Regions from separate parts of the Homo sapiens genome. Here region 2 is linked to region 1. The links come from fine-mapping of genetic effects on gene expression. Tissue or cell type: whole blood. Region 1 holds a variant in brackets; the other region holds the start of a gene. All regions are shown on one strand. Distances are between the middles of the regions.

What was found. PIP is the estimated chance that this variant, and not a neighbour inherited with it, causes the effect.
Region 2: it holds the start of ZNF831, and the variant in region 1 is fine-mapped to the expression of ZNF831 in whole blood (INTERVAL, PIP above 0.99).

What each region holds. Positions count from the first base shown.
Region 1 is chr20:59,217,276-59,220,038 of GRCh38, reverse strand. The region is part of intron 4 of ZNF831 (zinc finger protein 831); the gene reads right to left. Among named protein-coding and RNA genes, the nearest start is that of ZNF831, 55 kb to the right of the region's middle. The variant T/A (reference allele first, on the strand shown) is at 1,431.
Region 2 is chr20:59,162,357-59,165,119 of GRCh38, reverse strand. ZNF831 (zinc finger protein 831) reads right to left here and starts at 1,299. Exons shown (of 6, transcript NM_178457.3): 1 at 913-1,299.

The DNA of each region.
Region 1 (2,763 bases):
GTTTCTCTCCCTCCCTCTCCTCTTTTCTCTCTCTCAACTTTTAACATAAACACATATTTATCTTTAAAATGCCCATATTTCAACCTTCTCCTTCAATGACTATATCGTCCTACCCACCCACCTGCCCACTGAACCCATCATTAGTGCACTACCTATTGTTGCCTTCCCACCTTCTGTCGGCACAGACATCAGAATTCTAATCATGGCACTCCGTTTCTACAGGAATCTATTAGTGATTGCTAAGGGAAACACTTAGCATTTTAGATAAATAAGTACATAGTAGTTAAGTGCTCCATTCCCAGCAGTTTAGAGTATATGGCAAAAATTCTTTATGATCGAGGGATGAAAGAAGGCATGATAAAGAGTGACGGCCTTCGGTTCTCCCACATGCCCTGCTGACATTCCTTTCTGCAGTGGGGGGCCGAATGGAGAAGCCTTTGGGGTGAGCGTCGGAAGCATGCCCCACCCCCTGCTATGCTCCTGTTTATGCTAGCACACTCTCCCCTCTCCGCTCCAGCAGGCCTTGTCAGGATCCCTCATTTGGAAGCTTAATCATATCAGCGAGCTCACCGCACTGCATTTGTAATGACTTGTTTACCAGTCTGTGCCGGCTCCCCTTGCCACACTGGGCTCTCCCTAAGGACAAGGGCCATGTCATGTTCTTGTTTGCCTCTCTTCCTGCTCCCACACATTGCCTGGCACAGAACAGGCCCCAGTAATTACCTGGGACCCTCAGGCCACGTGACTCTCATCTGTCTCACAAAGGTGTCTTGGTCCACCAACCGGTTCCTAACCTCCTTGAGGTGAGGGCTCAAGCCATCTTCTGTTCCTCTCCTCTCATGGGGCTTCAAAAGACACTCAGTGGCTCACAAATGCATACCTAATTGCATTAAGCCATGAGTAAGATGGTTTCCCCATGTCTGCATGGAGGAAGAGGGGACATCTGCTGTGATTACTTGCCTGACCCCCACTTCTTTAGGGGGAACCATCTCTCATTTACTCTTTTTATTTTGTATTTTTTATTTTGAGACAGAGTCTCACTCTGTCACCTAGGCTGGAGTGTAGTAGCGCGATCTTGGCTCACTGCAACCTCCACCTCCTGGGTTCAAGCAATTTTCTTACCTCAGCCTCCCAAGTAGCTGGGACTACAGGTGCATGCCACTACACCCGGCTAATTTTTATATTTTTAGTAGAGAGGGGGTTTCACCATGTTGCCCAGGCTGGTCTTGAACTCGTGACCACAGGTGATCTGCCCTCCTTGGCCTCCTCTTAATGGCTGTAGCAAAAAGATGGCCCCAACCCAACCCTCAGTACATGGACAGGTGCAGGACCCATACCTGGCCGCTCAACATCCCCAGTGACAGGGTCAAGGACAGCCACATGACCAAACCAGGCCAGTTAGATTGAGTTTAGGGACTCAGTTATATATA[T/A]AAAAAAAAAAAACAGTCACGCTAACACAAGCATGGAACAGCTGGGCAGGACCAGAGCTGCCCAGAGATGGAGAGAGACGAACACACCCACCTGCAGAGCCTCTGAACCCAGCTGAGCTTGAAGCAATTCTCTCTGTTCTGTGAGATAATGAATTGGGTTCTGTTTGTTTGTCTAAGCCAATTTGAATCAAGCCTCTTTTCCTCACACCTCAAAGAGTCCCTCCTAATACAGGCATGCAGAGTTTAAAGTTCTGCCTCCAGTAGCAACATTTCAAAATAAGATAACCAGGGAATCTGTTTGGGAATAATAAAAGCTTGAAAAAAGAAACACTGCTCTCATATTGGGAGCCCCAGCTTTGTGAGCCTTCTCATTTTATCCCGGGAGTCTGGACTATGGCCCCAAATCCCACCCTAACCCAGGAAGGGCTGAGAAATTCATCTCTCTGGCTTCTGTTTATAATGAGGAATGATGACTCTGCTCAGCCTCTGCCTAAAGCCTCACATATTACTATTTGCTCTCTCAGGCTCCTGGGAGGCCAGGGCTTCTCTGAGCTTTCTGGGAGGTAGCTGAGTAACACTGGGGCTTGGCAGCCTGCAGATCAACTCATCTCTTTTGCAAATTGCTAACTGGGTCTAATGAATTGGCTGGGCACAGAGGAAGGCCTTGATGTCCTTTGCAGTGACAGAGTCCCCCCAGAGCAGGCTGATCCATCGTGCCTCTGCTGAGGAACACATCTATTAATATTTGGTGAGAATATCAAATTGTGCCCAGTGGACATAACATCTGGTCAAGAGAAACTTACTTCTCTGTGATTTAAAAAAATAAATAAATAAATAAACGAGTCTTATCGTCCCTCCATGTTCTTTTTTTCTACTAGAGAATGCCAGCCTTCCACGGACAGAATGGATAACAGACCCCTAGTGAGAATCAAGGAGGGCTGGAAAGGCCCTCCCATCCACAGGCATAGAAGGTAGCATCTTTTACTCATCCAAGGGGAAAAGAAGAAAAAGTTTTATAAACTGGAGGAAAAGAGAGGTATTTAATATGCTACTGGTAGGGGTATAAACTGGGAAGCAATTTGAAAATGGCTATTAAAAATGTGCAACACAACACTCAAAGACCCAGCAATTTCTCTTCTTGGTTATTCCCTAGAGCAAACCCTGCCTGGGCTAAGGAGATATAAACAGTGTGTCCAAGGAGCATGATGCAAGTGTGAAACACTGGTGATGACCAAACTCTTCGTTAATAGGAGAATGGCTTCATAAATAAGAGTATTCCCACCCAGAGGGACTCTGTCCCTGCTCAGGAAGTTGAGACAGAGCTACATGTTTT
Region 2 (2,763 bases), 55 kb after region 1:
AAGCAAATCTCACAGACCCCAACATTGCCACAGAACCTAAGTGTTCTCTCTGATTAATATTAGCCTATGGTCCTAAATACTTGCTCTTAGCTGGGGCAATAAAGCGAGGGTGGTTAAAAGGCATATTATTTTAAACTGGCCCTGACGTTGATTCTGTTTTTCCCAGTCAGCTAATGTTACCATTTTTCTAAGTTGCATCCTGTCCCTCGTTGCATTTTGGTAGATAACATCTCTGGTTTCATTCTTACAGAAAGATTTGCTACGGGAAAGGAGAAACACGTTACCTCTCAGAGCATGGCTTCCATGGCTGATCTGAGATAGCCTCCAGCTCTTTGCTATTTTGGATACTGGGAAGTCAGATATGTGTATAAATACATGGACTATTGGCCCTTGTAAATCTCATTGAAAAATGCTACCCTTGGGTGGCTGATCAGTAGAATTGCTATAAATAGTAGCTCTATCAAATACCTTGATATTTCAATTATATTATATACAAATAAAAAACTTGGCCTAATAAAACATACATATATATGTGTATATATATACCACACATACTTGGGCTAATATGTTCTAACCAATTCACACTTTCAGTTTAATTAGGTTCATCACTGGGAAAAAAAACAGTTTATAAAGCAATAAATTTTCTTATAAATGTTTTTCTGTTTAGTAGAACATGGATTGTGGACCTGGTTTCTGACAGCCATTTTGAATTGTAGTAAATATTTTGACAAAAGCAACAGCAGTATTAAGCACATGAGAGAATTACTTGAACTGGGTCACACACAGTTTTACGTAGCATTTTCCCTTTAACTGCGTGCTTGAAGATAAATATATCATTAAGAACATAGAGTAAAAGAGTTTTTTTTTAACTGACATTTTATATATGCTTATGTCATGGAGCATGTTACATACCTTTATAAACAGTGGAGTGTTTTCAGCCAATGATGCTCTGATTCAAACACAATGATCTGGTTGCCCAGAGAAGACACCCACAGGTCCAGAAAGGACCACTGGGCTGGCCCCACAGAGAAGAGATGAGCTCAAGAGCCCGTGCTCTCACTCTCTGTAGGGAGCTCGCTACTCTTTGCTGAGAGGGCATTTTAGTGTTCTCTCCCAGTTCCTACTCTGCAGGCAGCATCTCAGAGAACGGAGAGATGCTCCCTGAGCCTTAGAAAATAAAATAAAATAAAAGAGGGCAGCCTCCTGTGGCTTGGCCTTTATGTCAAGTCCACGTTTAACTGAGAAAAGCACCATTTCAAGCAACCTGGAAGAGACTCAAGCAGAGATAAAACTTGGTATGGCCCAGAAATAGGAAGTAAATTATTTCCTATACATTACCTAACGTCACGGTAGCAACCCTTAGAAAACAGGAAGAGATAGAAGCAGACACGAAAAAAAAAAAAAAAGAGCCACCGCTCAGCTCTTTAGTAATTGTTACTATTGACCTAACAACCTATAAAGAGCTTGCTGCCCAGAAATGTAGGTGTGCAAAAAAACATTGCATTAGAGATGAGGTTGTTCTGTGCAGGCAAGTTTAAGAATTAGAGCCTAGGTGGTCGTTTTCCTGGAGATGTGGATGGAACAAGTGTTTGCAGAACCTCCACATGTAACCCCAGAGGTTCCTGAGGGCCCAGAATGAGCATTTCCACTGCAATTGACTATGGTGGGAGGTCCCAGTGAAAGATTTCTGCGATGCTGTCTTTATGTAAAATGGTGATATTTTGTTCAACATGGATTTGTTTGAATTAGGTTTTATTTTTAAGATATGGCACTGATCACTCTATTCAACATAGTACTGAAAATCCTAGCCAGAGCAATCAGGCAAGAGAAAGAAATAAAAGGCATCCAAATAGGAAAAGAGGAAGTCAAGTTATCTCTCTTCACTGATGATATGATTCTATATCTAGAAAACCCTAAAGTTGCCACCAAAAGACTCCTAGACCCAATGAATGACTTCAGTAGTTTAAGGATACAAAAATCAATGTACAAAAATCAGTAGCATTTCTATACACCAGTAATGTTCAAGCCGAGAGCCAAATCAAGAACACAATCCCATTTACAATAGCAACACACACACACACACACACACACACACACACACACACCTAGGAATACATCTAACCAAGGAGGTGAAAGATCTCTACAAGGAGAACTACAAAATACTACTGAAAGAAAACAAACAAATGATAAAACACTCCATGCTCATGGATTATAAGACTCAATATCATTAAAATGTCCATACTGCTCAAAGCAATTCAACACTATTCCTATCAAATTACCAATGTCATTTTTCACAGAATTAGAAAAAAACTATTCCAGAATTCATATGGAACCAAAAAGGAGCCCGAATAGCCAAAGCAATCCTAAGCAAAAATAACAAAGCCAGAGGCATCACATTATCTGACTTCAAACTATACTACAAGGCCACAATAACCAACACAGCATGGTATTGGTATAAAAATAGACACACAGACCAATGGAACAGAATAGAGAACCCAGAAATAAAGCTGCACACCTAAAACCAACTGATTTTCAACAAAGTCAACAAAAATAAACAGTGAAAGAAAGGACCCCCTATTCAATAAATGGTGCTGGGGAAACTAGCTAACCATATGCAGAAGAATGTTGAATAGAGTGATTAGTGCCACTCTAATTCCAGAATGAAACTGGACTCTTACCTCTCAATATATACAAAAATTAACCCAAAATGAATTAAATACTTAAATGTAAGACTTCAAACTATAAAAATCCTACAAGAAAACC